Regions from separate parts of the Homo sapiens genome. Here region 2 is linked to region 1. Evidence: fine-mapped expression QTL. Tissue or cell type: whole blood. Region 1 holds a variant in brackets; the other region holds the start of a gene. All regions are shown on one strand. Distances are between the middles of the regions.

Region 1 (15,804 bases):
ATTTTCATTTGTTTGTTTGTTTGTTTGTTTTGAGACAGGGTCTCACTCTGTCACCCAGGCTGGAATGCAGTGAGGCCATATCAGCTCACTACAACCTCCGCCTCCTGGGTTCAAGAGATTCTCCTGCCTCAGCTTCCTGAGTAGCTGGGATTACAGGCATGCACCACCATACCCGGCTAATTATTTTATTGAGACGGAGTTTCACCATTTGGCCAGGCTGGTCTTGAACTCCTGACCTCAAGTGATCTGCCCACCTCAGCCTCTGAAAGTGCTGGGATTACAGATGTGCACCACTGCACCCAGCCATGTTTGTTTGTTTTTTGAGACAGAGTCTCACTCTGTTGCCCAGGCTGGAGTGCAGTGGCACAAACATACCTCACTGCACTCCTGGCCTTAAGCAATCCTCCCACCTCAGCCTCCCAGGTAGCTAGGATTACAGGTGTTTATTACATTTATGAACATGATTTAAAAATGATTAAGGGAATTAATTAATTAGATGCTAAAAATTCCCTTAAAAGTTAATATTGCATTTTGGTAGATTTTATAAACCTACCAAATCAGATCTGGAAATTGAATTTAAAAGTTTAAGGAAGAACTAGGTTTTAAAAATTGCAATAGGTAAAATATGAATTAAAAAGAACAAACTGGTCTCTGAATAATTTTTCTGTGTGCAAAAAATTGCCATTAAATGCATAAAGTACCCACATTGACAATTTGATGAGAATTGGATGTTTTTATTGAGAAATTCCCATATGACAGTATATGTGGGTCATTTCTCTAGATTGTCCAGTTTCCAAGAACAGTCCTTCAATCCCTTGCTTGTGCAAGAATAACCTGCAGCAGGGCTGGCTTCATGGGCCAGCATCCCATGCAGTCTCACAGGGCCCTGCTCTTAGAAGGACCTCACACTTGTTCTAATGCTCTGCTCAAAAAAAAAAAAAAAAAAAAAAAAAAAAGGCATATTAGAGAAATAGATTAGCCTGTGATTCCAATTTAACATATAAATTGTGTAACTGACTTAGATTTGGGATTCAAGATTTAACTCTTACTAAATTTATCACAGTATTGGACCATTTAAGAGAAATTTTGCCATCTTGAAAATTTTATTTTAAACAAGGAGCCCTACATTTTTATTTTGCACTGGGCCCTGCAAATTCTGTAGCCAGTCTTGCCCTGTAGTCAGAGTTGTGGCAGCCAAGCAGTAGGAGAGGGCTGGAGTTTCAAAGGTCAGTGTGCAGACTCTCCCCAGTCCCTGAGTTTTCTCAGTTGCCTCCCTCTCACCCACCAAGTTGTGCCTATTGTCCACCAGTCCGTGGTCTCTCCAGTCCAACTTTAAAAGATCCACTTTCCTGCCAGGGTCGAGGGGAGGAACTGTCAGCTGGCCATATGGGCTAGAGGAGGAGGAGATGAGGGGAATATCTAGTTCCCCTGCTTTTGCTAATTCTGTGGTAGGAATTACCTTGCCTTTTTCATTTGTGTTTTTGAGACAGGGTCTCATTCTGTTGCCCAGGCTGGAGTGCAGTGGCATGATCATAGCTCACTAAAGCCTTGAACTCCTGGGCTCAAGCGATCCTCCCACCTCAGCCTCCCGAGTAGCTAGGATTACAGATATGCACCACCACACCCAGCCTGAATCACCTTGTTTTTGAGGCTTTCTCCCCTGCAGACACTTGCAGAATGGAAAAAGTTGAAACTTAATTACCAATTAGCCTATTCCAAAATTTTGCTGACATCTCAACTCTAATGTATCTCCTTTCTCATTCTTTGCCCTTATGGATTTATGCCTTTTGTTCCTTTATTTAGGTTTTGGGAGAAACAGGAGAAAATGCAGGTGTTCAATCTGCCGGGCATGACAAGTGGTCTCAATTTAGCTTCCATAGAAACAAGGACTTTTCTCCTTAGTACTCGATTTTTGTTGCTTTATGTAATACTTAATCAAATGATATAATTACAATGACAAGTACAACTGGCATAAATAAGTTTAAGAACAAACCCATTTTGGCCGGGCGTGGTGGCTCACGCCTGTAATCCCAGCACTTTGGGGGGCCGAGACTGGTGGGTCACGAGGTCAGCAGATCGAGACCATCCTGGCTAACACGGTGAAACCCCGTCTCTACTAAAAATACAAAAAAATTAGCCGGGCGTGGTGGCAGGCGCCTGTAGTGGAGGCTAAGGCAGGAGAATGGTGTGAACCTGGGAGGTGGAGCTTGCAGTGAGCCGAGATTGCGCCACTGCACTCCAGCCTGGGCGACAGAGTGAGACTCTGTCTCAAAAAAAAAAAAAGAACAAACACATTTTGACTCTTGGTAAATATGCACCTCAGTTAGTGGGGACAGAAGTATGCGGGCATTAGTCATTTTACAGAAGGAATGAGAGTTGTGGTTAAGTTGGGCAAGTTGGATTAAATGGAGATTAGTCAACTGAGTTTCTATTTTAAATAAATGAATATAAGGCATTCATTAAGAGGGTGCATTATTGAAAGTCTAAATGATTTGGCTTCTTGGACAACCAATTTAACTTTAAAGAAGCTAATCTGTCTTTTTTTTTTTTTCTTTAGAAAAGAATGGGGTTTCATTCTTTTTGCCCAGGCTGGAGTGTAGTGGCGTGATCACAGCTCACTGCAGCCTCAATCTCCCAGGCCCAAGCAATCCTCCCTCTTCAGCCTCCCAAGAAGCTGGGACTACAGACACATACCATGACACCCGGCTAATTAAAACACAATTTATTTTTGTTTTTATTTTTTTTTTTGTAGAGACGGGGTCTCCCTATGTTTCCCAGGCTGGTCTTCAAGGCTCAAGGAATACTCTCGCTTTGTCCTCCCAAAGTGCTGAGATTACAGTTGGGAACCACCGTGCCCAGCCTAATCGGTGTTTTAAAAAGCCTTAAGCAAACAACTGCCTTTCTGGGATCAGAGTCTTTTCTGCACTTTGACATGGGTAGTATCGAAGAGTCCAGAGTAACCTCCTGACTCTTGGCCCCTGCTCTGTCCTAACTCCCAACAATCCCTGCCTCTGCCTTTATCTCCTAGTGGACTTTTGAGCTGCTTTGACCTCAAAGACCTTGGTTTGCATGTATGAGTCATACCTTGTGAGGCTCCCTTTCATAGGTACCTGGCTGTCTAGCCTCTAGCCTTTGGGGAATTCAGGGCAGACTGACTTGTCTTTCTGTTGGCTTCCTCCAATGCAGGATGTTAGCTTCAGTTTCTCTGCTCTACGTCAGTTATCCATTCTTTGTTTTCCATCTTCCATAATTCTGACATTTTCCATCTATCATCACCTGTATTTGTCTTTATATTTGAAGAGTTTATATCTCTATTTTATTTTATTATTATTATACTTTAAGTTTTAGGGTACATGTGCACAATGTGCAGGTTTGTTACCTTCACAGATGGGAACTGAACAATGAGAACACATGGACACAGGAAGGGGAACATCACACACCGGGGACATCTTTTTTAAAAACATTGTTATCCCTTTACTATCAGTTTAATGGAAGTTCTGAGGGGTAGAGAATCACTGCTTCTCTTGAGTAATTCATGTTTGACTTTCTCTCTACTGTGGTAGGTTCCTATTTCCTAAGCTGATATTTCCTTCATCTCCTGATTCTTCTGAAAACAGGAGTCTCAGTTTTTAGCTTTCTAGACAATTTGAAAAAGACATCTACTCAGCCTTCAGAGCCCTATTTGTTCTGTGGTTAATATGCAGCCAGAAACAAGTCAATGTAAGTCAGCTTTTGCAAATATCAATTAGAACTTAGGGGATGTGTCAGGATAAAACTTAAAGTGTAATTAGTTTAAGTCAAGCTAACTCTGGGAAATTTCCTCTTGATAGAAAAATAATATTCATAAGGTCAGATGAGCTTTTCTCCTTTGACTGTTAAGAAGGGAATATTTAGGGATTGGAAGTTAAAATTTTCCTTAGAACGAGATTTAGATTTGTAACATTTCCTAAACTCACAGCAATTGTTTTTTTGTACAATTGCATGGCACTTTCAGTTTCAAAGATCCTTTTTTTTGGGAGGTGGGTAGAACTTAAAATAATACCTTCCATCTTTAGTACAGTTGTTAGTGGGGTATTGGTTCCAGGACACCCCCACAGATAACAAAATCTGCAGTTGCTCAAGTCCCTTATATAAAATGGCATATGTAGTATTTGCATGTAACCTATGCACATTTTCCTGTATGCTTTAAATCATCTCTAGATTACTTATAATACCTAATACAATGCCTACACATCACTTCTTTCACATAGATTCAATGTAGTACTAGGTGAACAGCAAATTCAAGTTTTGCTTTTTGGAATTTTGTGGAACTCCCCACCCCCAAATATATATTATATATTATATAATATATATAATATATATTTTATATTATATATAATATATATTTTATAATATATATTTTATATTATATATAATATATATTTTATAATATATAATTTTATATTATATATAATATATAATATATATTTTATATTATATATACTATATATTTTATATTATATATACTATACATTTTATATTATATATACTATATATTTTATATTATATATACTATACATTTTATATTATATATACTATACATTTTATATTATATATACTATATATATTTTATATTATATACTATATATTTTATATTATATACTATATATATTTTATATTTTATATACTATATATATTTTACATTTTATATACTATATTTTATATTATATATATATTTTATATATAATATATAAATATAATAATATATTTTATATATAATATATAATATAATATATATGATATATAGTATATATATTTTATATATTATATATAATATATATTTTATATATTATATATAATTTTACATATATAGTTTATTTATATATATATATATATATATATATATATATATATATATATATATATATATTTTTTTTTTTTTTTGGGGACAGCATCTCGCTCAGCCACCCAGGCTGGAGTGCAGTGGTGTGATCTCGGCTCACTGCAACCACTGTCTCCCGGTTTCAAGCAATTCTCCTGTCTCAGCCTCCTTAGTAGCTGGGATTACAGGCACCTGCCATCATGCTCAGCTAATTTTTATATTTTAGTAGAGACAGGGTTTCACCATATTGGCCAGACTGGTCTTGAACTCCTGACCTCAGGTGATCTGCCCACCTCGGCCTCCCAAAGTGCTAGCATTACAAGCACGAGCCACCACACCTAGCCTCCCACCAAATATTTTTCATCTCCAGTTGATTGAATCCATAGATTTGGAATGCATGGATACAGAGGGCTGACTGAATATAACTTTTTCACATATTTGGGGTTTTTTTTTTCCTGCAGAAATGTAATCTGTTCTTTCAGAGTAGAGATTGTTTCTGATACATCTTAGCATCTCTGAGTGCCAGAATGAGGGCGTACCATAAGGTCAGGCACATAGAGCTTGTTTAATCTTTCTATCAAGCCATGAGTGAGGAACTACTATAACTCTAATTTTATAACTGTGGAAACTGAGGCACAAGCTACACAGCTGTAGTAAGAGGTAGAGGTAAGAGGTAGTAACTTATTTTACAGAGGGAATGAAAATGGTGGGTAAGTTGGACAAGTTGGTTCCTAGGATAGCACCAAGAGGAACTGACTCCACTGATTAACCAGGTTAGCTGCCTCCTACCCAAGCACACTGCAGGATTTGCCTTCAGTGACAACATGCAAGGTGCTTTCTGGAGAGGCATATCTGGGACTTCATGGAGCTTGCAGAATCGGTTGTATGGCTGCTGGCTAATAGGTGTTTGACAAGTTTGGCCTGAGACTATCTTTGAAACATACCACCTGAAGCGTGGTTGTGGAGAAGCCCCATAGCTCAATCTTATCTTAACTATTGGAGGCTACTGATACCTGCCTTAAAGATGTTATTAATAATAAATATGAATGACCAAATTGACTTAGGTTAATTTGTAACCTCCTTCTCCCTTAGTTATCTCCAGCCGAAAGAAATCTAGTCTAAGAGAGTCACAAAATATCTTGTGAAAATTTACCACAGGCCTCAAACAGAGACTCGGGGGACTGAAGTCTCTGACATGAAGCGCTTCCTGCAGGGTATAAGCATTTGGAACACGGGTAAGGCCTATGGGCTAAAATCTCCAGCCAGCAGCGGTTAGAAATTCAATGTTGTCCCCAAGCACTTTAGATCTCCTGAGTGTTTTGAATTCCAGTGGGAAGGGAGTTCTGATAAAAGGCAGCTGAGTTTGGAAGGATTGTAGCCTCAGGATGGCTCCTCTGCCTTTTGACCCATGGTTGAGGAAATTCTGCCTCAGCAGCCCTGTCTCCCTTTCTGCATCCATCTCATAGTCCCCACTGGTGATCCCCCATCTCAAGTAGCAAATTCCAAAGACGTTGGAGAATGTTGGCCTTGTTGGTTGTCTCATATCAGAAATAATCTGAGAGTTGCTTGTGAATTGCAGGACTATTTAGATTTTGAGGTCAGAAGCATAGAACTGGTACTTTTTTTTTTTTTTGAGATGGAGTCTCACTCTGTCGCCCAGGCTGGAGTGCAGTGGCGCAATATCCGCTCACTGCAAGCTCTGTCTCCCGGGTTCATGCCATTCTCCTGCCTCAGCCTCCCGAGTAGCTGGGACTACAGGCGCCCGCCATCACGCCCGGCTAATTTTTTGTATTTTTAGTAGAGACGGGGTTTCACCGTGTTAGCCAGGATGGTCTCGATCTCCTGACCTCGTGATCCGCCTGCCTTGGCCTCCCAAAGTGCTGGGATTACAGGCGTGAGCCACCGCGCCTGGCCAGAACTGGTACTTTTAAAATGTCTTTTTATTTTTTAATTAATTTTTTTTAAAGAAATAGAGATGGGGTCTTGCTATGTTGTGCAGGCTGGTCTTGAACTTCTGGCCTCAAGCGATTCTCCTGCCTTGGCCTCCCAAAGTGCTGGGACTACAGGTGTGTACCACTGTACCCAGCCTTTAAAATGTCTTAAAAAGTGAAAAACTATATTTGAATATAAATAAAGAATTAAGAACAACAACACTTGAGTATCGAGACTATATTATCCAATACAATTGATGAAACTATAGACCATACTCTCTAGACTTTCACACAAGCTTTTCAGTTTTAATTTCACATAATTTGAAAAGTGATGTACATGTGACTGTCGAGCATTTGAAATGTAACTCATACAACTGAGGAACTGAATTTTTTATTTTATTTTTTAAAGTAACTTAAATTTAAATAGCCACTTGTGAGTAGTGGCTACCATCCTGGTCACCACACATCCAGAACATGGTGATAAGCCTGTATCAGGATAGTCTAGGTTATGTTGCAGCCACTGAGAACCCCAAAATCTTGGTGATTTATAAGAACAAATGTTTATTTCTTGCTTGTGTTATGTCCCCATTTTGGGTTGGCTAGAGACCCAGATGGCTGCAGCAGCCACCATCTCATGTGTTGCCCGTCATTATGGAGAGGCTTGTACCAGCACATAAATGCTCTGGTCCCGAGGGTACATACATCACTTCTGGTCACAGCTCACTGACTAGGACTAGTCACATGGCCCCATCTAACCAGGAAGCCGAGAGTGAAGCCCTAACTCTGTGCAGAGATCCTTAGCAACAACTGCCACCAACATTAGCCCCCCCTTTCAAATTACAGGAAGGAGTCCCAAGGGATAAAGAGAGTAGTGCTACTTGTGTTTTCTTGAAAAATGGAGAATTGGGTTTCTCACAACTCAATTATTTATTACCTCCTATGTACTTATTAGCACAGATTTATCAAAAACAGGTGAGGTGTGGAGCAAAAAGCAAATTTCAAACATTTTAACAAAAATAAAAAATCTTTACATAAATTTAGAGCTGACAACAGTCAGCATGTCTTATTAGTTGCATGTAGGAAATATCTTTTAATAAGATATGCAATGCAAGGAACAATCAATGGATTATTTTTTATATGTTTGGGATGAAAATGAATGGAAGAAAGTATATCTGTTATTTTTCTCAGTGCAGCATATAAATTGTACATTTTTCACTAGCAAGGAATAAAAAGTCATTTTCTTTAAAAATAATAAATTGTTAGGGACATTTGTGGATTGTGAGTGTCTTAAAAATGAAAACACTAAATATTTATTAACTGGACAATGGATTGTTTCTTTCCAGACTACATCAAAGAATCAGAGAATTATCTAGCCCTACATTTAACAGCATGTCTTAAACTCTTTCTAGACCATCCACAATATTGTTTGAACATCTGAAGACATGGGGAACTTGCCATCTGATATCTGATAACAGACTTCCTGTAAAGCAGGACTGG[T/TA]AGTTTCCTGATAACAAATTCTTCAATATGAAGGTATGGATAAAGCATTTGGCTGCCAATAATGAACTGCACCAAAGTCACCAATTCAAACCATGCCCTGGTAAATAGTATCATCAGTGATGATGATGATGATGATGATGATAATGTCACATGTTAAAAATGTCATATAGATTTTAGCATCTTGAGGACCTGATACTCTGTAACAGTGGTCCCTAACCTTTTTGGCACCAGGGACCACTTTCATGGAAGACAGTTTTTCCATGGACCAGGAGAGGGGGTGGTTTTGGGATTATTCAAGCACATTACATGTATTGTGCATTTTATTTCTATTATTATTACATTGTAATAATATATTTTATTATAATATAAAATAAGTATACAACTCATCATAATGTAGAATCAGTGGAAGCCCTGAGCTTGTTTTCCTGCAACTAGACTGTCCCATCTAGGGGTGATGGGAGACAGTGACAGATCATCAGGTGTTAGATTCTCATAAGGAGCGTGAAACCTAGATCCCTCACATGAGCAGTTCACAATAGAGTTCGTTCCTGAGAGAACCTGATGCTGCCGCTGATCTGACAGGAGGCAGAGCTCAGGCGGTAATGCGAGCAATGGGGATCGGCTGTAAATATAGATGATGCTTTGCTCACTTGCCCACTGCTAACCTCCTTATGTGTGACCTGGTTCCTAACAGGCTACTTACCGGGGGTTGGGGACACCTGCTCTATAAGATATCCTTCTAGAATGATTGATATAGTACTAAGCTGATGCTCAAGAGAAATTTTGAACTAAATGTGTAAATTCGGCTACCTATATAAACAAGAACTTCCTAAATCATTCTGTTCCATAGCAAAACACAACCACATAAGCCAGTTCTTCACATCTAGGCACCACAGTGTTTGTTTTTCATTTCCAGGATATAGCTGTGTCCTTTACAACTGGTAGCATGGAAAGAAAGAGAAGTCTGCAAAGATTGAACAAACAGCATGCACTGTGGTATCCTTTATTTAAAAATTGTGAGCTGACTACAGTTGTAGTGTTCTCATTTACCATTCTGATGGCATAATAAACCAAGAGAACATTAACACAATTCCAAGAAGGCATTAACCTGTAACACACATATACGCCACACATGCACACACACAACATACACGCACACAAAGGTTATATTCTGAACACAAAAGTGATAGAAAAAAGCTTTGAATGCGCTAAATCAAATAAAAACCCTTTATTATAATAAACTGTGGCAATACTGTGGCTATCATGAAAAATATTGTAACTATTTTAAAAGCAAAAGGAAAAATACTGGCAGTTTGAAACTAGCAGCAAAAAGCAGATAAAAATAGAATGGAAGATAACATAAGACTAATATCAAAATTCTAATGTTGATACTGTGTAGGATTGCACTGAAGTAATTTTAAATTGGTTCTTAAGGAACTCTTAAAAAGTCCCTTAAAAATATTAAATTGTTGCACCTTACAAACAGTGGAAAAGAAAAAAAAAGTATTTGGAATGTTACACACACACACAGAGGAAATGTATTAGGTCTATCATCAATTATGGTCTTTGTTTATGACCTTCAAAAAGCTTTATAAAGAAAAAATTTAAGTGCCAATGTAGTGAAAGAAAGTTAAAAATTCCTAAAGACGCAAGTCTGAGTGCATTTACCAGGTCTAAGAATATATTTAAAGGTTGGGGGCAAGGCATGATTGATGCACATTTAAGAAGAAAAATATGGAACCCATAAGGTAGGTCAAGTTCTTTGGAGAGTGTTGAGAATGAAGATGTATTAAACTCTGGCTATCTTGGAGGAGATTCCAAAGTACATGGAGTTCTCCAGCTCTTTATCAGTTGAAATCTGTTTCATCGTGGCCAATAGATAATTAAGACTAACTTTTCAGCAAACTGATTTCTCCTATATTCAAACACAAAAATCTTTACCACACGTTCAGAGCTGATATTCTATAACAGCACAAATAAGAATCCTGGTTTACAAAGGAAACCACATTAGCAAGGATTTTTTTTTTCCCATGGGTTCTTAACCAAATGTCTGAAGCTGCTAGACATCTGCAAAGAGGGGATAAGTTTAGATTTCCTACTGATTTTGGAAGAAAAATATTTTCCTAAGGAAGCCAGAGTCATCCATGAGCAGGGACCTGTCTTCAGAATCGAAGAAGCATAATGTCCTTAATGCTTACACTCATGACAAGTTGAGAGTCAGCAAAACTGGCAGGTGGAAGGGGAAAGAGAAATGGAGAGTTTGAACATCTGCAGTGTACTTTGGAATAAAGTGGCTCAACTGCTTTCAGAAATGAATTGCTGGAGTACTGGGAGAAAACCCAGTTCTCTAGAGTCAGGGGGTGGGGAGAGAGAGGCCTCCCATCCCCAGGAACCCTCTGGGCTGAGCTGTGGCCCAGAACTCTTGTTTTGGCCTTATTTTTCATGAGCGCATTCAAGTGGAGAATTTATGACTTTGCCCAGATAAATATTTGGTTTGGTTACTTTCTCTCTAAAATCAATTGGTCAGTCAAGTTACTGGTGATTTCCCTAAATGAAATCTAGCTGCACTAGTATCTTAAGGTGCCAACTAACATAGATTAATGCCCATCAATAACGCTGCTAGGTATCAACTGCTGTTTCTGAAGAATCAACCCACAAATGACCTAACCGATAATCTATCACACTAGGTGCTTTTACTATCTTGAGTTTTTTTTTTTTTTTTGAGTTTTAGAGAAATAGTCCTTTTAATATGACTTAGAAACTGCTTTTCTCTGGCTTTGTTTCACTCTTCTTCCTCTTCCCCTTCCCCTTCACCTTCCTCCATCGTTTCCACAATGAGCTCTGCTGTGCAGGTGGCTTCTCCAAGACTGTTGACAGCCTTGCAGGTGTACTTGGCATCGTCATCCCCGCAAACATCACTAATAATTAAAGAGCAGTTCCCGTCCTCATCGTAGTCTATCTGGAAGTGGCGGGACTCCCTGATTGACTGGTCATCTTTGAACCAGACAACCTCGGGGTCTGGGTATCCTGCATCACAGGGAGAGAACACAAGTTGCAGGAACTGTTATTCAAAATTTCTTATCAACTCATGCAAGCAACTTGTAAGCTACCACTATTGATTAAGGTGGTTAAGGAGAAAATTTTGATGTTGGCCTTTATCGACTGTTTTGATATCTACATTAGAATATGGACATGTCTTGTAAATACCAATATCTGAAACCCCAAATAGAATATTTTAAAGTTGTTCCATTTCCCACACATGTTGGACTAGCACCACATCCCACCTATTAAAAAACTTATTTAATAGTTTTTTTATTTTTTTAAAGTGATGAGTCTCACTCTGTTGCCTAGGCTGGAGTGTAGTGGCATGATCGTAGCTTACTGTTGCTCAAATTCCTGGGCTCAAACGATCCTCCCTTCTCAGCCTCCTGAGTAGTGAGACTATAGGCATGAGCGACCGTGCTCAGTTAAACATCACACCTTTCACTTTTTGGGGGGTAGGGGGGCAGGGTCTCATTCTATCACCTAGGCTGGAGTGCAGTGGCATGAACATGGCTCACTGCAGCCTCAACTTCCTGGGCTCAAGTGATCCTCCTCCCTCAGCCTCCCAAGTAGCTGGAGCTATAGGTACATGCCACCATGCCTGGCTAATTTTTTAAAAAGTTTTTTTTTTGTAAAGACAGGGTCTCCCTATGTTGCCCAGGCTGGTCTCAAACTCCTGGGCTCAAGTGATCCTCTGACCTTGACCTCCCAAAGTGCTGGGATTACAGGTGTGAGCCACCACACCCACCCATCTTTAAACAGACATAGAGTACTACCTGAGGCTAGGCATGGTGGCTCATACCTGTAATCCCAGCACTTTGGGAGGCCAAGGTGGGCAGGAGTTCAAGACCAGCTTGGCCAACATGGCAAAAAAATAAAAATTAAAAATAGAGTACTACCTGAAATACTGCTCCAATTCCAACTCTACACCTAGATCTGAATACCTTCTTAGATTGAAAATACAATTTTCTTTTTCCTTTTTTTTTTGAGACAGAGTCTCACTCTGTCGCCCAGGCTGGAGTGCAGTAGCGTGATCTTGGCTCACTGTAACCTCCGCCTCCTTGGTTCAAGTGATTCTTGTGCCTCAGCCTTCTGAGTAGCTGGGATTACAGGTGCACGCCACGACACCCGGCTAATTTTTGTATTTTTAGTAGAGACAGGGTTTCAGCATGTTGACCAGGCTGGTCTGTATCTCCTGACCTCAGGTAATCTGCCTGCCTTGGCCTCCCAAAGTGCTGGGATTACAGGTGTGAGCTACCTGTGCTCGGCCGAAAATACAATTTTCTATCTTTTTTTTTTTTTGAGACAGAGTCTCACTATGTTGCCTAGGCAGGAGTGCAGCAGCATGATCTCGGGTCACTGCAACTTCCAATGTCCAGGCTCAAGTGATCCTTCCACCTCAGCCTACTGCATAGCTCAGACTACAGGTACACACCACCACACCCAGCTAATTTTCGTATTTTTTGTAGAGATAGGGTTTCACCATGTTGCCCAGGCTGGTCTTGATCTCCTGGACTCAAGTGATCTGCCTGCCTTGGCCTTCCAAAGTGTTGGGATTACAGGCGTGAGCCACTATGCCCAGCCTAAATTTTCAATTTTGTATAATAGTTTAAGTGAAATAATTTAAATGAAAAATAAGAGTCAAAACAAAATGGGAACAAGGGATCTTTTTGGAGTGATGAAAATGTTCTAAAATTGGATTGTGGTATAAATTCATTAAAAATAATTGAATTGTGCATTTAAAATAGGTGAATTTTATAGTATATAAATTATAACTGAATAAAGCTAATAACAGCTATATAAAACATAATTTAAAAGAGCTGATAATATTGCTAAGAAGAAGAAAGCAATATTTGTCTTAGTCTGATCCAAAGCAGGTAATTTGCCTATGGACAATTGGAAATGGACCTCACCAATGAGCCTTTATGCATTAGTCATATCTCTGCAAAGTTCAGCATTAAAAAATAAAATACACATGCATATAAAATATATATTATATGTATTTAATGTGTATGTGTACATATATATGTACAGAAGCATTACCAACATTATGCATTTTGTTTGCAGGTACATAGTATATACATGTACCCCGCTTTTAAAGTCATATATATACATACATTTAAAAATATACAATATATTCCACCTGACTTTCTCTTAAATGTTGGTGAAGTATTTTTATAGGAAAAAAATTGTAGCCCTGATACGGTTTGGATATTTGTGCCCCTTGAATCTCATGTTGAAATGTGATCCCCAGTGTTGGAGGTGGGGCCTGGTGGGAGGTGTTTGGGTCATGGAGGCCGATCCCTCATGAATGTCTTGGTGCCCTTCCCGAGGTAATGGGTGAGTTATTGCTCTGTCATTTCATGCGGATCTGGTTGTTAAAACGTGGCACGTCCTTCTCTCTCGCTCTCTCACTTGCCATGTGACATGCCTGCTTCTGCTATGATTAAAAGCATCCTGAGGCCTCACTGGATGCAGATACTGGCACCAAGCCAAATAAGCTTCTTTTCTTTATAAATTTTCCAGCCTCAGGTATTCCTTTATAGCAATGCAAACAGGCTAATATGAGCCCTAACCAGAATAAAAATTATACATAAGAAATCAAGAATTCTAATGTTCTTTTCAATGTTGTTTTTTCAAAATAATTTTAGAAATTGTTTTTTCGAAGTAATTAGGAACACCCAGACCATGAGGAAAATTGGGTCAGGAAGAGCTGGTCATAAAGTACCCTCCACTCCCATGCCCTGCACCCTCAGTGCAAAAGTTTCAATTTTGTTTTTATCAAAACAGCATCCATATGCTTTAATTTCTCATCAGAGCCCCAGGCAAAAGTTACATAAATATCAATGAAACAATTCCAAAGAGAAAATTAAGTACGAAACAATCCCAAAGAGAAAATTAAGTACAAAATGATAATCATTATGTTATTTTAAAACATTCAAAAAGGAAAAGAAACTTCAGAAGACCCAAATGCAATGGTAATGGTGAGAATTGCAAGCAGTGGCTCCAGAGCCTTCAGCAGAATCCCCAGTCCGAGAATTTTCACATTATCAAAGGCAGCACATCCACTTTCTTTTAATTGAGTGAGGAAAGGAAAATGACTATGGTAGGCGAAGCATTGATAAGGCACTTTGATAATATAAAGATGCAGAAGAAAAACTATTTTTTCCATTCCTAACTTTGGGTTATTTTACTCAAAAGGCATTGTCTAGTCACATTGCTGGAGAATCAAAGAAAGTGGGAGGCACAGTTTGTTTTGACTGCTGTACTGTGCTATGCGGCCTCGGGAAAGTTGCCTAATAAACTTCTGTGCTTTATTTGGTCAGACCAAAATGGGTGATAACCCACCACCCTGGTTGGCAGGTGAAAGTCACAGACTTGAAGCAAAGAGCCTGTCTTATCTTGTCCCTTCTCTTTCTAGACGGTTGCAATCTATATGAAAATGGAAACGCTTTGTGTCATCAACTTTGCTCATTTCTCAGGTGCTATGCCATGACCCCTTAAGGTCCCTTGAGCTCTGACCACTGACAGGTCTGTGGCTGCATTATTCCCAGCAGGCAGATAAGCAGCCTGGGGAAGATGGTGCCGGCTGAGTGCTTTGTCCCGGGTGCCTGGCTCCCAACTGGCCTCAGTCTGAAGTCACAATGCATGCACTCTCTCTGTACCTGCCAGTCCCACAACTTTTCCCTTTGCTCTGTGACATCTTTACAAGATCTAAAAGGTTCCCCCTTCTCACATATGTCCCCTCACAGAATCCCCAGAGCCACTCCGTGACTTAGCTATCATCTTACAGCAGAGGGACCGTAACTCAGGGGAGTTGGACCACCATCCAAGGTCACACAGCCTGTGGACGAGTAGCAGAGCCTGCCGATTCCACATCCTATGCCTTTGTGCCAGCCTTCCTTTGAGGGCCTCATATGGGCAAGTCACATGCTTTTCAGCAGTTTGCAAAGCTCATTTCACTAAGCATGTTCCAAAGCCAGGTAAGTCCATGCAAGGCCATTTCTAAACTTAGGTCTAGTGGCTGATGTAAGTAGGTGAAATTTCAAATGTGCCCCCTGGGGAAGTGACTGAAGGACACACCTTCAGGAGGTGGGAGTGCAGGGCATAGCCCTTTATGAGCAGCTCCTGCTGACCCAGTTTCCCCCAAAGCTTGGCAGTTCCTCATTGTCCCCAGCTGCACAGAACTGACTTCTTGCCCACGGTGCATGGTAGGGACTCTACCATCCAGCCACACCCTATTCATGGTGAAGAGAAGCACAGCTACAACTTACCTTCAATCTTGCAGTCAAATCTAGCAGCACTTCCCTCCACAACTTCTAAATCGCGAATGGTCTTAGAGAAATAGGGTTTTACATGAGGCTTTTCCTCAGCAACAGCCTCAAGGAAAGCTTGGGACACATCTTCTAGAAGACAGAGAAGAAGACCAGGTCATTTCTTCACTCGTTGTTCTCGCCTCGCCTCTAGCTTAAA
Region 2 (15,804 bases), 25 kb before region 1:
TAAAGTGCTGGGATTACAGGTGTGAGCCATGGTACTCAGCCAGGCTTCCTTTTGTACCTTGCTACTACATGCTCCTTTGTACTTGCTTGGTAAATGTTTTTATGTCTTTTAAAAAGCAAAGTGTTATTATTTTCTTAAGAAGATGTGAAATTGGAGAACAAGTAATTTCGATTTCCTTTTTAAGTAAACTCCCACAGAACCTAATAAAGAATAACATTTAGCATAAAGAGATATAAATGAGTAGCTGCCTTCCCTGGATTCATTTTCTCCTCCTGTAAACAGGATATATGTCAACACTAATAATTCCCATCAGGATAACTTATGTGTAATTAAACAATACCACACACATCTAATTATTACACAGTGTAGATGGGGTAGGCAATGAAAAACTCCTCAACCACAGAAATTGTGGTTTTAGCAAGCCTGCTCTATCGCCCAGTCCAAGGGATTACTTCCATCACTGACCTTTGCAACGTTAATTGCCTGCATGTTCCTGGGAGTCTTCACTTCCTTATGCACAGACATTTTCCCAAAATCAAATCCAGGATTTGTCACTTAATTGGTTCTTAGTGGGGATAACAGAGATAAAACCAAAAATCCAAGATATTTTCCTAAATCCCTATTAAAAATTCTATAAGGATAAACAGGCTAATCCTTCAAAGTCTAAGACTTGGTTCCTGAGTGGATTTTAAAGTATGACACTGTTTAATGTCCCTACCTTCCATAAGATATACTTAAATTTTAAAAATTATACTTCTAACATTACCAAGTTTTTTTTTTTTTGAGACAAGGTCTCACTCTGTCATCCAGGCTGGATTGCAGTGATGCAATCATAGTTCGCTGCAGCCTCAAACTCCTGGGTTCAAGCTCAAGCCTCCCATTTCAGCCTCCCAAGTAGCTGGGACTACAGGTACCCACCACCCAGCCCAGCTAAAAAAAAAAAAATTTTTTTTTTGTAGAGATGAGGTCTTGCTATGTTGCTCAAGCTGGTCTCGAACTCTTGCCCTCAAGTGATCCTCCTGCCTTGGCCTCCCAAAGCTCTGGGATTGCTGGGACTATAAGCATGAGCCACTGTGCTCAGCTCTAATATTATGATGTCTTAAAGAGATAGAAACCCCTTTAAATTATTGAAGTATTCCAAATGGGGACAACCCCCTACTATATCAAGTACTGGAAGTCTGATGGTCTTGACTCCAAATTTGCTTCTCTGTAGCTTGTGGGAACTGTACTGGCCAAGGTTCTGAAAGAGAAAGTACTACTTATTTACTAGTGTCCGCTTCCAAAAAAAGTTCAAGCCTCTAAGTTTAAAAAATGGTTCACATTAGGATTTGTTAAAATTTCCTCACACTCAAATTTAGGGTAGTAAGGGACTTTAGAAATCTACTTTAACCTAATTATTTACAAATGAAAAGGAGGTGGATACGAGAGAAAAGACTTGCCCAAATCTATAGAGTCAGTTGGGAAAACTATTATACTTAAAATAAAAAGGTACTCAGGCTTCCAGCTGGAAGCTCATTTCATCATACCACCTACTTAAAATGCCTAAGTTTGGACACTATTGAAATTCCTCTGTGTTGCAGTGAGCCGAGATCCCACCACTGCACTCCTGCCTGGGCAACAGAGTAAGGCCCTGTGTCAAAAAAAAAAAAGAAAAAAGAAAGAAAGAAAAAAAGAAATTCCTCTGCCTTCTAAGAGAAAAAAACAAAAGCAAAATGGATAACTTTCTGATCTAGAACGTGAGAGTGAATCCAGCCTGGGAAACACAGCCAAACCTCACCTCTACCAAAAATATAAAAATGAGCCAGGCACGGTAGTGCACGCCTGTGGTCCCAGCTACTTGGGAGGATGAGGTGGGAGGATGGCTGGGGCCTGGGAAGTCAAGGCTGCAGTGAGCAGTGATCACACCACTGCACTTCAGCCTGGGTGACAGAGTGACCCTCTCTCAAAAAAATAAATAAATAAAGTGAGAGTGGGCTGGGTGCAGTGGTTCACGCCTGTAATCTCAGTGCTTTGGGAGGCTGAGATGGGAAGATTGCTTGAGCCAAGGAGTTTGAGACCAGCCTGGGCAACACAGGGAGACCCTGTCTCTATGAAGTTTTAAAAATTATCCATGTATGGTGGTGCAAGCCTGTGGGCCCAGCTACTCTGCAAGCTGAGGTGGGAGGACTGCTTGGTCCCAGGAGTTCAAGGCTGCAGTGAGCCACGGCCATGATGGCACCACTGCACTCCAGCCTGGGCGACAGAACAAGACCCTGTCTCAAGAAAAAAAAAAAAATTGAGAATGAAAGGTAGAGGTATCACACTTCATTTCATGAGATAAAGAATTTTTTTTTTTTTTTTTTTTGAGACAGAGTCTCGTTCTGTTGCCCAGGCTGGAGTACAGTGGCGTGATCTCAGCTCACTGCAACCTTGCCTCCCAGTAGCTGGGACCACACGCCCGTGCCACCACACCCGGCTAATTTTTGTATTTTTAGTAGAGACGGGGTTTCACTGTGTTAGCCAGGACGGTCTCAATCTCCTGACCTCGTGATCCACCCGCCTCGGCCTCCCAGAGTGCTGGGATTACAGGCGTGAGCCACCGTGCCCAGCGAGATAAATGATTTTTTCTTAAGTATCATTCCATAGTTCAGGTTTTAAAAGTTGCCAGTAAAGTATAAATGTTATGATGGTCTTGCCTGGAGGCTAAGCAAAATGAACCAGATCTTCCCTGCAATCTGAAGGTTTTTCACCATAATGAAATATACGAACTATGGCGGCTATTGATTTTGTGTGCCCAAAGCTATCCCCATCCCTCTTTTCCATAAGCAAAGTCTATAGTCCCTTGGACAGAAGAATGGGCATGTGTCCTAAGATTGGCTAATCAAGCACCTCACATCACTGGCATAGTCTAAGTAGGGCCAACCAGAATCCTCTCTGGGAACTGTGTGACACAGATGCTGCGAAAAATAAACACCCTCCCTGTTTCCCACCATGTGGAGAGCCCAAGACCAACATTCAAAGAGAAACAGACAAGCAGAAATGAGAGAAAGCAAGAGAATCTGGCAGTGTCAGCTCCTTGGTTCTCATTCCTGAGCTAGTTTCTTTGTAAATTAATCCTGTATCTGTATCAACTACAGAGGCCAGAAAATTCCTTTTTTGCTTAAAATAGTTTGAATTGGGTTTTTGTCCCTTGCAATTCCAAAATCCTAATCTATACTTACCCCAAGAGAGAGGGCTGGATATACATTGCCCTTAATGCAGGGAAATCAATACATTTTTGTTAAATTTTTAAAATTTGGACGCCTCTAGACAGGCTCTCTATTATGTCTTCTATCTATCACTTCCAATATCCTACACCCACCAACTTCACTATTTCTATTACATAAACCCTGAAAGCATCTGATTTTGCCAGTGCTTCCCCAGGATGTCCCTAGAATTTTTAAAAATCCTAATATAAGCTTGCTTCAGTTGATTTCCCAAAAAAGTCGAATATAAAATACATTCAAGGTAACCTAAGTTAAATGAGATTCTACCCAATCTAGAACATCAAAAAGCCTAGGTATCAACACTTTAGTATGTGAGGAGGCAAAATTTCAAAATTTAACATGAATCCAAAGGGGGTATGCTACTTCAATATAATTTAGTTGCATGTTTTTCTTCATACCAATGGAAATCAATAACAACAATAAATCTCAGGACCTACCTCCAATAAGGCTCCAGTTTGAAAGAATTTCAAAGGCTTTTCAATTGAATAATAAAGGCTATGGTAGCTACCCTTAGCCAGGTATGCTCGGACCAGACCAACCGCTATAACCAGCCACCTAGTAAAAGAGAAAACAGCAATCAGGAAAAAATAAAAATAAAAAAAGTAGCATTTAGGTTAACACACAGCTGTGGCAATAAAAGATATTGCTAAAGGTGACCTCAAGCATGAGTAACCTGGATTTATGGACGATAGCTCTCAAATGCCAAGCTGTAATGCACTGAAATGTTGCAACACCGACAGCACCTTACCAAGAGGGCTCAGTGAAAGCATAGTGGCACCTCACCCATCTGGAGCTCATTTTTTTGGCAACTTTGCTATTGAGATCAAGGCCAAAAGGAAAGGAATAAGCTAAAATGGTCCTTGTGCCACTAAATCAGGTGCCAAGAAAATCTAAGACGAGAAAAAAACAGTTAAAGGAAAATTTTAAACAGCCTGTGCAGTTAAAGGGTTTTTAATAATTACAGGGTGGAAAGAAGATGCTTTAAACTATTGTTATAATTGTCTCACTGGAACAATTACCCATACCTTAAAATCTATCCTTTTAAAATTACGAATAAAGGGCTCTTGCTAAAAAAAAAAAGTTTTTTAGCCAAATTTCCTAAAATCAATGCAGAAATGAAAGCCAGATCAATACAAACCACGAAACAGGAAAGCACTTAAGCATACAGCTGTGAATGTTATATTTTTGTTCCACTGTCCTTCTCAAAAATAAACACAATGTTTTGTTAAGTTCCATAATAAAACAAATGGACCTTTTTATTAAGGTATGTCTCCTGGAAGGATTTAGATAAATGTATAGTATCAACTAGGCAATGGGGTGTGTGTGGTCTATGCTATTTCCAAAAACTATCACATAAGGACATCAAGTAAGAGTTTGTAAAAGAAGAAATTATTTAATGGTGTAACTGGTACAACCATTAACAGCCTTAAAAAAAAAGCTTACTTTGCTCTCACAATCCCAATTTATCTTCCTGGTTTAAGATACCACTCCTTACCCTCCACCCCATTCTCTATGTTCATTGCTCAGGAATAGACTTCTTTCTTCTTACCAATGTACCTCAAAATCCCTCTCCAGTCCAATGCCCTCACCGGCTCTTGCTAAGACAACAAGAATTTTATATATAAATATTAATACACACAGTGAGATTCCTGGATGTTTTTTTAAAAATCAATCTATGTGACCACTGATGTGATATAAAGCTTGTATCTGTACTAGTTCTTCATTGACCTGTGAGTCAAGAGAAATGATTTCTAGATCTGGAACTTCTACTAACAAGTTCTATGATCTCATGCAAGTCACAACTTCTCTGAGCCTAGGTTCCAACACCTACCATTTCTAATACTAGCAATACATATATGATCCTCCCACGATATATTTTCTTCTTCGTGAAAAAAAAGCAAGGTGCTGAACTGTAAAAATATTAATATATTGGCATTTGTCTTATTTTAAAAAGGGATAGGGGGATGTATAAACATATTTGCTTGCATCAGCATCTTAAGGATACACAAAATTAACTGCCTCGAGGGAGGGGAGCTGGGTAGAAGGGAAAGGTGGGAGGAAAGATTTTCACTGTATTCCCTCATGTTTTTCATTTTTAACCCTAACAATGTATCACCTACTTTAAATAAAAATGGATGTTCACTATACAATTCTTTCAACTCTTCTGTATGTTTGAAATTTTTCATAATAAAATGTTAGGACTTCTTAAAAAATTACAAATGAAGATAACTTAAAAATATATAACTGTCTGATGCTGTGATCCTCCTCACCAAAATGACAAGATAAAGAATTGCAGAGCTGAAGGAACCTTCATCACCCAGACCAACCCTTTAGTTTTACAAATGAAAAAACGGAGGCTAGAGAAATAAGATGATTTATCCAAAGTCACACAGCTAGTTAGTGGCAGAGCTTGAACTAAAAACCCGCCGGGATAAGGGATGCACTGAAATGAAAGAGACAGAAGATGGGTAAAACCGTTTCGAGGGTCCATTCTCCCCCTTTCCAGTAACTCTGCCTTCTACTCCCCAGTTTCTTCCCCACCCCAACCCATCCTAAAAGTCTAAACTCATCTAAAGCCTAGCTCTGCTCATGTCGCTGGCCAAAAACTTTGAACGCTTTCCCAATACCTTTCAGATTAAAGCGCAGCCCAGATTTTGAAAACAGCCGCCCAAATGAATGGTCACTCTGCAGCCACAGCTCCTCCACTCCCCATGCTGGCGCCGTTCAACATCCGAATCTGGCCGCCCAGGACGGGCTCCGCGCCGCAGGTAGTCCGGCCGCTGCCCCCGGCCCCGCACCTGTGGCCAGCCCCACCTTTCCTCCCGCGGCCCTCGCGAGCCAGCGCCCGGCAGCCGTCCCCGCGCCCCAGTGCCTGGGAACTTGGCTCGACCCCCAGCGCAGGAGGGAGCTCGCGGGCAGCCACCGGGGCCGATTCAGCGCTCGGCCGCCCTCAGCGCCCAGGTACCGGGTCCCGGGCACCCCCCGCCGGGAATGCACTGCCTGCGGCGGGCCGCGCCGATCCTATCCGCCCCGCCGCTGGCCGCAGGGCTCCCTCCCCGGCCGCGCTGGCTCCCCGCCTCCCCGAGCCCCAGCCTCACCCGGCTGTCATCACCACATTGTAGATGACCAGGTACGCCGTGGCCAGGGGCCCCGGGCCCTTCTTCTTCCGCGTGCCGCTGGCGTCCCCGGCCCCGGCCCTGCCACCGCCGCCCCCATTCCCCTTCGCTGCTGCAGTCGCCGCCACTGCCGCCATGTCAAGTGCCCGAAGCCCGCTCTCCTAGCGCGAGCGGCTCGGGCCGGACTACGCGAGGAGAGGGGGCGGAGGAAGGGACGAGGGGCAGGCGGGGCCAGGGCCGCGGGGCGGAGCCGGGACAGGGTCCACGGCAGCCGCCATCTTGGCTGAGGGCAAAGACGCTCCTGGCGCTCCCGTCTTTCGGCTTGCCTCAGTTGCCACTGCCATCTTGGATCAGGGTAATTCCCGCCTCTTGGGCGCTCCCGGTTACAACCTCGGCGCCATCTTGGATTAGTTCAATGTAGCCACCCTCTCCAGGCCCGCTGCTTCTGCCAGCTGGATGTTGCGTCGTCCCTCGCTATTCGCCCTCCTATAATCACTGCTTCCATGTTGAATCAAAACAATTATGCTTTCGTTCTCCCTTCTTCAATTGCCCTATCTTCACACCTGAACACTATTGCTCCGGTATCCTGCCATTTTGGATCAGGGCGGTTGACGGTGGATTCACTTCCCATCAGCCCTTGAGGCTGCAGGGACCAGCCCTTTGGTAGGTGCGCTTTGCTTCCTAACCCGTTGCCGGGTTGGAGATTCCACCTCCGAAGTTTTCTTTCTGACTTTTGATTTTACATTCCTAGTACAGTGGAGAAGCCCAGGCGGCCTAGAATCCAGTGTCGTCCGTGAGTGCTTGGCTGGTGTTCAAGTGCATCTTCCAGCCTGAGACCGCGTGGACTCGCTCATCGTGAGGGCGAGAGGAGGATAAGCCCATTGGGCTGTCGGCTGAGAGTGAGGTGCGGGGTAAGGGAGTAGATTTATAGCTATAGTGACTAAAAATAAAAGGATGTTGGCTTAGGTGGAAAACCTCTCTGCTTTGGGAAGCTGGAGCAGCTTGTGGGCATTGCTTCAACCAGCTGATCCCACTTTCCATTCATTGCTTTGTTTCAGGAGGTTCTTTATTTGTAAACGTCCCCTGCAATTTTTTACACACCCAAGCAGCTCCTTAAATGTATTACTGTATATGTGGTAGTATAAAATATTTATGGGTTCATTCCAGCAAGTGTTTATGGAGCGTCCACAAAGTTGCCCTGGAGTTCATGGCACTAAGTGAAAGAGACAAAGTCGTCAGTCTCCCAGGGATTATATAGAGCAGCGGCCCCCAACCTTTTGGTCAACAGGGACCGGTTTCGTGGTGGGGGGGTGGATGATGGTTTCAGGATGATTCAAAGGCATTACATTTATCATTAGATTCTCATAAGGAGCACACAACTTAGATCCCTCCAATGCGCAGTTCACAATAGGTTCCCCGCTCCTATGAGAATCTGATGCCACCGCTGATCTGAGGGAGGCGGAGCTCAGGAGGTAATGCTCCCTTGCTTGCTGCTCACCTCCTGCTGTGCCTCCTGGTTCCTAACAGGCCAGGGATTGGTTCTATCCGCAGCCTGGGGCTTAAGGACCCCTGAGGGAACCAGACGAAAATGCTCGTATTAGTTGGTGAAAAGTGGTATCAGGAAGTTATTACAATAATCCAGCCATGGTGATAGTGGTGTGGGCCAGAGTGGTGGAAATCGAGGTGATGAAAACAACAATGAATTCTGTGCGTATTTTAGAAGTAGAATTATAAGATTTGTGGATATGTTAGTTTTGGAGTGTGAGGTCAAAGGCGTTTTGAGCAACTTGTAAGAAACCATTTTTAAGGCGGAAGTCGGGAATTTTGTTTTTTATATGTTGAATTTGAAATCCTTATTAAACATCCAAGTGGAGAGGCTGGATAGACAATTAAATTTAGACCCTGAGGTTCGGGAAGGAAGTCCAATGGGCTAGAGATATAAATTTGAGAGTTGTCAACCTAAAATAATAAAAAAGGTAAGAATCTAGTTTAAAGGAAGTTTATTCAAGCATAAAGGTTGAAGATGGCTACCTGGGAGCATAGATTCAAGTTACCCTAAATATACACTCTGATTAGCAGCGGTTATGAGTGGGTTTTTAAAGGAAAAAGAGGCAGCTTCTAAGTTGTTTACTAAGAATTTACATTAAAATTACATTAGCTATTGATTGGCTATAAACTATTCTTTGTATCACAGATTCCAGGAACATGAAGATAATGGGTGAGGCTGCTAGTCAGGAACAAAATGTCTAAACAGTTGCCCCCAGGCAAACTCTTGTCTCTGGGCCTGATAAATTTTTGCATACTTCACATAGCTCAGACAGCTCAGAGCTGTTTGAGGTATTATCTTTTCTCAGAGTTCTGAGGGTGGTGGTGGTATTTAAATCCATGACACTGTAATCACCCAATACGTTCTTCCTTCCCACTGCACAGACAAAATCAATTCATAGAGACCATGGCATTGCAATAAAGAATTTAATTGACATGAGATAGGTCTTGGAGATGGAGTTATTACTCCAAATCTCCCCCAAAATTCAGAGGGTAGGGTTTTTCAAGAATAGTTTGGCTAAGATCTGAGAGCTATAGTCAAAACAAAACAAAACAAAACACCCACCCCCCCCCCAACACACACACAGTTTGGCAGGCAGGAGGCTGGAGGAATGGGTGCTGCTGATTGGTTGGGAATGCAATTATAGGGGTGTGGAAAATGGTCCCCCTGCACTGAGCCTGCTTCTGGGTGGAGGCCACAGGACTGGTTGAGCCAAGAGTCAAAGGTCTCAGTGGGGTCGTCAGCCATCCGAAATGCAGAAGCCTGAAAGTTTATCTCAAAAGGCCAATCTTAGGTTCTACAGTAGTGAACTGGGGAAGCTGCAAATCTAGTGACCTCTGGAATAGTGGCTGGTAATCATTTAACTTAACAAAGCCTATGTCTTAGCAGAATTCAAGCTCCTCTTATCCTTCTAACCTGGTGGCTTTTCATTAGTTTTACAAAAGTGGTTTAGTTTTGGGGAGGGGCTATTATCGCTTAAACTGTAAACTAAGTTTCTCCCAAAGTTAGCTTGGTGCAAGCCCAGGAATGACCAAGGGCAGTTTTGGAGGTTAAAGATGAGAAAGGAAAACCCCAGATTCACTGAGCCAAAGGGAAAAGTCAAGCTGGGAACTGGGTCACACAAACCTGCCTCCCATTTGGTTCCTAAATAAGATAGCTACAAAGATAAAAGCTATATACTTCCCTCACATTTTACCCACAAGGAAATTCCTTTTAGGCCCAAAGATCTTTACTCTAAAACAGTTCTGTTGAATTTCAACCTGGCAATGTAAGTTGATATCTTCACAGGTATGGGACATAGGACAGAATTCAAAGTCTTCCCTCTCCTCACCTGAGACAAATGCATATCTGATTGCTTCCTCTGCCCTATTGTCTACGTTATCTTATGTAAAAATACAGATTAACTGAGCCAGACTAAGGCATGAATATTTCCTCCACTCCCCACTCACATGAAAATTGTGTATTCAAAAGGATGCAACTGTTTTATCTTTTTATCTACTGACACAATTTAAAAATATTTCTTGGCTGGGCGTGGTGGCTCACGCCTGTAATCCCAGCACTTTGGGAGGCCAGGCAGGCAGATCAGGAGGTCAGGAGTTTGAGACCAGCCTGGCCAGTATGGTGAAACCCCATCTTTACTAAAAATACAAAAATTAGCTGGGTGTGGTGGTGCGCGCCTGTAGTCCCAGCTACTTGGGAGACTGAGGCAAGAGAATCGCTTGGAGTTGGAGGTTGCAGTGAGCCGAGATTGCGCCGCTGCACTCCAGCCTGGTGACAGAGCGAGACTCTGTCTCAAAAAAAAAAAAAAATTTCTCTTCCCCCAGTATCCACCCTTTCCCCTTTAAGTACTGAAGCCCTCAAAATCATCTTTGGAGATAGGCATATACCTGCCTCCCTGGCATGCATCCTTTACTATGGCAAATAAACCTCCTAAAATGATTGAGACTTGCCTTGATCGTGTTCTTTGATTTACAGAGTCAAGGTGGGGGCTGGTTAGATCAGATCTCTCTCAGTCATAATTTTCTCACTGTTACAATTTTTGCAAAAGAAGTTTCAAGACCTCAAGAGATGAAGTGAGAGGCATAAGTTGACAATTGTCAGGGTCCCATCCTTTCCCGCCATGGCAGATTGTTCAGAGATTCTGTTGCCTTGTTTTCCTGAAATTTTTTTTTTTTGGAGACGAAGTCTTGCTCTTGTCCCCCAGACTGGAGTGCAATGGCACACTCTTGGCTCACTGCAACCTCCGCCTCCCAGGTTCAAGCAATTCTCCTGCCTCAGCCTTCCAAGTAGCTGGGATTACAGGTGCCTGCCCCCACGCCCAGCTAATTTTTGTATGTTTAGTAGAGACGGGATTTTGCCATGTTGGCCAGGCTGGTTTCGAACTCGTGACCTCAGGTGATCCACCTGCCTCGGCCTCCCAAAATGCTGGGATTATAGGCATGAACCACCACACCCGACCTTCCTGAATTTTTCAAAGAGCAAGTTGGTGAGCCCAAATTGCACACTGTGATCAGAGGGCAAAAAAATTTCTTTGCAAAAGAAATAAAGAAGTGAACCATTTTACAAAACCAAATAATCATTCATCTAAAAGCTTCTTTCATTCATTTGACTGATTTTTTTTTCAATATAATCTACTTAATGGGAAAGTAGGAGGAGGCAGGAATGCATAAAGTTCTGTTCAGTTGGAAATCAGTTTAAAACTCAATGTATCTTCTTGCAGTCACTTAGGCCCAACTCCAGTCTGTTGTTTATAGCAGCAATCTCCAACCTTTTTGGCACCAGGGACTGGTTTCATGGAAGACAATTTTTCCATGGACTGGGGAGGGAATGGTTTCAGGATGAAACTGTTTCACTTCAGATCAGCAGGCATTAGATGGAGCCTGCAACCTAGATCCCTCGCCTGCATGGTTCATGATAGGGCTCGTGTTCCTATGAGAATCTAATGCCGCTGTTGGTCTGGCAGGAGGTGGAGATCAGGTGGTAATGCTCACTTGCCTGCTGCTCACCTCCTGCTGTGTGGCTGGGTTCCTAACAGGCCATGGACCTGTACCAGTCTGTGGCCCAGAGGTTGGGGACCCCTGCTCTACAGTACAGCCAAAGTGATCTTTTCCACATACAACCTTGTTCGTGTCTACTACCTTCCTCTGCCCCACCCCTGAAGATATTTAAATGGCTTTTGATGACACTTAGGATAAAGCATAAAATATTTAATATGGTATACAAAAATCTGCATAGACTAGACCCTACCTGCCTCCTCAGTCTCACCATGCCCCTCCTAGTCATACTGGCCTCATCTTAGGTCTTCCATCGAGCAGTACTCCTTTTTTGCCTCAGGGAATTTGCACATGCTATTCCAATCATACCTTCCCAACAGTACCCCAAAGTCTTAACTCATTTCAGCATTAACTCAAAAGTCCAAGTTCAAAGTCTGATCTGAGACAAGGCAAGTCTCTTTCACCTACAAGCCTGTAAAATCAAAAACAAGTTAGTTACTTCCAAGATACAATGGGGGTACAGGCATTGGGTAAATGTTCTCATTCCACATGGGAGAAATTGGCCAAAACAAAGGGGCCACAGGCCCCATGCAAGTCTGAAACCTGGTTGGGCAGTCATTAAATATTAAACCTCTTAAATACTCTCCTTTGACTCCATGTCTCACATCCAGTGCATGCTGATTGAAGAGGTGAGCTCCTAAGGCTTTGGGCAGCTCTTGCCATGTGGCTCTGCAGGGTACAGTCCCAAAGGCTGCTTTCATGGGCTGGAGTTGAGTGCCTGAAGCTTTTCCAGGTCCAGGGTGCAAGCTGTTGGTGGATCTACCATTCTGGGGTCTGGAGGACAGTGGCCCTATTCTCAGATCCACTAGGTATTGCCCCAGTGGGGACTCTGTGTGGATGCTCCAACCCCACATTTCCCTTTTGCACTGCACTAGTAGGGGTTCTCCATGAGGGCTCCGCCCATGCAGCAGACTTCTGACTGGACATCCAGTCATTTCCATACATCCTCTGAAATCTAGGCATAGGTTTCTAAACCTCAACTCTTGGCTTCTGCACACTTGCAGGCCCAACACCACATAAAAGCTGCCAGGGCTTGGGGCTTGTACCCTCTGAAGCAATGGCCCAAGCTGTACCTTGGCCCCTTTTAGCCATGAGGTGGAGTGGCTGGGACACAGGGCACCATGTCTTGAGGCTGCACACAGCAGTAGAGCCCTGGGCCTGCCTAGCCCAGGAAACTATTTTTCCCTCCTAGGCCTCTAGGTCTGTGATGGGAGGGGCTGTCCTGAAGATCTCTGAAATTCCCTGGAGACATTTTTCCCCATTGTCTCAGCTATTAACATTCAGCTCCTTGTTACTTGTGCAAATTCCTGCAGCCTGCTTGAATATCTCCCTGGAAAATGGGTCTTTGTTTTCTACTGCATGGTCAGGCTGCAAATTTTCCAAACTTTTATGCTCTGCTTCCCTTTTAAACATAAGTTCCAATTTCAGATCATCTCCTTGTGAACGCATGTGACCGTTTGCTTTCAGAAAAAGCCATGTGACATCTTGAATGCTTTGGTGCTTCGAAGTTTATTCTACCAGATACCCTAAATCATCTGTCTCAAGTTTAAAGTTCCACAGATCTCTAAGGCAGGGGCAAAATGCTGTCAGTCTCTTTGCTAAAGCATAGCAAGAGTGACCTTTGCTCCAGTTCCCAATAAGTTCTTCGTCTCCATCTAAGACCATCTCAGCCTGGACTTCATTGTCCATATCACTATCAGCATTTTGGTCAAAATCATTCAACAATTCTCTAGGAAGTTCCCAACTTTCCCACATCTTCCCCATGTCTTCTTCTGAGCCCTCCAAACTGTTCTGACCTCTGCTGTTACCCAGTTCCACACTTGCTTCAACATATTGAGGTATCTTTATAGCAGTGCCCCACTCCCAGTACCAATCTTCTGTATTAGTCCATTTTCACACTTCGATAAAGAACTACCTGAGACTGGGTAATTTATAAAGAAAAGATGTTTAATTGACTCACAGTTCTGCATAGCTTGGGAGGCCTCAGGAAATTTACAATCATGGTTGATACAATTACGCTGTGTTTCCACCCACATCTCATCTTGAATTTTAGTTCCCATAATCCCCATGTGTTGTAGGAGGGACCCAGTGGGAGGTAATTGAATCGTGGATGCGGTTACCTCTATGCTGTTCTTGGGATAGTGAGTGAGACTCACAAGCTCTGATGGTTTTATAAGCATCTGGCACTTCCCCTGCTGCCATGTGAAGAAGGATATGTTGGCTTCCCTTTCCACCATGATTGTAAGTTTCCTGAGGCCTCCCCAGCCATGCAGAACTGTGTCAACTAAACCTCTTTCCTTTATAAATTACCTAGTCTCAGATATTTCTTCATAGCAGTGTGAGAAGGGACTAATACAATGGTGGACAGCAAAGGAGAAGCAAGCACCTTCTCCACAAGGCAGCAGGAGAGAGAGAGAGAGAGCAAAGAAGGAACTGCCAAACACTTATAAACATCAGACCTCGTGAGAACTCACTATCACTAGAACAGCATGAGGGAAACCATCCCCATGATCCAATCACCTCCCACCAGTCCCTCCCTCAACACGTGATGATTACAATTTGAGATGAGATTTGGTTGGAGACACACAGCTAAACCGTATCACTCCTTTTTTGCATTTATAATTTTTAAAATATCACTTATTCTTCCCCCTCTACTTACTGGAATTTGTACATCTTGCTTCTCTTCTTTTACTGGTTACCATAGAAATTACAGCATGGATCATTAACTCATTAAAGTCTAATATTAATCAGTACTTTATCATCTTCCTAAACAATACATAAACCTTTCAAATCTGTCTGGTCATTTTTAATAATCCCTTGTTCCTTGCCTATATGAATTTTTATGAATATATAATACCATGTATCTGTCATGGCACATTGTACATAATAGTTTCACTGCCCTAAAAATCTGTGCTTTACCTATTCATCCCAAACCAGCCTCCTCCCACACCCATAGTAACCATTGATTTTTTTACTGTCTCTACAGTCTTGCTTTTTCCAGAATGTCATATAGTTGGAATTATACAGGATGTTGCCTTTCTGTTGTTTTTTTTTTTTTTTCACTTAGCAACATGCACTTAAGGTTTGTCTGTGTCTTTTCATGGCTTGACAGCTCACTTCTTTTAATCACTGAATAATATCCCATTGTCTGGATGTACCTTCTTTTTTTTTTAACCTATTCACCAATCGAAGGACATCTTGGTTGCTTCCAAATTTTGGCACTTATGAATAAAGTTCATATGAACATTCATGTGCAGGTTTTTATGTGGACATAAATTATGTTTTTTATTTCATCTTTTATTTTCTTGAATATTTTATACAGGCTTATTTTATTTTCCCTATATGATAATTCCAATATTTGAAGTTTCTGGGGGACTAAATCATTTTTTTTTTGTTGTTGTTTTTGTTCACTGACTCATGGTGGCTTAATCTCCCTGTAATTTTTTATTGTGAGTTTATTTTATTGAATTTAAATCAATGGAAATTCCAAGGGCCTACATTTGGGATGCTTTCCTTCAGAAGGACTTTTATATACCTCTGCTAAAAGCCAGATGGCATCCGGACCACTTTAGTGTGCGCTTCAAGGATCCTGGAGCTTCAGCTTCCTCATGTTGCCATGGTTCCAGGTTTAGCTTCTGATTCACAGAACTGGTGTTGGCATTTGCAACATAGTGAAAACTCCCATATCTAATTTTTTAAAAAACAGAAATTAATGCAGAAGAATATTACTTCAAAGGTATAGAATTTTAAAACTATCAATATCACCAACCATAAATGAGAAGATTCGTACATTTGACTATATTAAAATAAAGAACTTTTGTTTGCCAAAAGATAGCATGAAATAAGCAAAAAAGCAAGGTACAGAGTACAAGATATTTGCCACATGTATAATTGATAAAGAATAGCCTCCAGGATATATGAAAACTCTTTCAAATCAATAATAGACAATCACATTGAAAAAAAATGAGCAAAGACTTGAACAGAAGAAAATATAAATGGTCAATAAACATGCAAATATGCTCACTCTCATTATTAATTAGGGAAATGCAAGTATAACAACAGTGAGATACCATTAACTATCCTCTAGATTGGCTAAAATTCAACAGTTTGATAACACCAATTGTTGGCAAGGATGTGATGCGGCAGGAACTCTTCAGACTGCTGTTGATTAATTGGTGTGTTCAGTTTGGGAAACAATTTGGCATTATCTAGTAAAGTTGAAGATACATATATCCCGTGATGGCTATTCTACTGCCAGGTCGATGATCTTAAAGATCTCCTAGGATACATGCATCAGGATATTCAAAGCAGCATTGTTCATCATACCCCACACTGAATACAAC

The links. PIP is the estimated chance that this variant, and not a neighbour inherited with it, causes the effect.
Region 2: it holds the start of MYLK-AS1, and the variant in region 1 is fine-mapped to the expression of MYLK-AS1 in whole blood (TOPMed, PIP 0.91).

Annotation. Positions count from the first base shown.
Region 1 is chr3:123,603,034-123,618,837 of GRCh38, forward strand. MYLK (myosin light chain kinase) reads right to left here. Exons shown (of 34, transcript NM_053025.4): 33 at 15,606-15,737; 34 at 7,016-11,316. The coding sequence ends at 11,072. All of the region lies in intron 2 of MYLK-AS1 (MYLK antisense RNA 1), which reads left to right. Among named protein-coding and RNA genes, the nearest start is that of MYLK-AS1, 25 kb to the left of the region's middle. RefSeq lists an enhancer at 7,381-7,430. The variant T/TA (reference allele first, on the strand shown) is at 8,290.
Region 2 is chr3:123,578,530-123,594,333 of GRCh38, forward strand. MYLK-AS1 (MYLK antisense RNA 1) reads left to right here and starts at 6,984. Exons shown (of 4, transcript NR_121654.1): 1 at 6,984-7,024; 2 at 7,118-7,272. It overlaps HACD2 (3-hydroxyacyl-CoA dehydratase 2), which reads right to left and starts at 6,524. Exons shown (of 7, transcript NM_198402.5): 1 at 6,344-6,524; 2 at 3,683-3,800. The coding sequence starts at 6,498. RefSeq lists silencers at 5,849-6,028, 6,039-6,648, 12,299-12,499 and an enhancer at 6,709-7,008.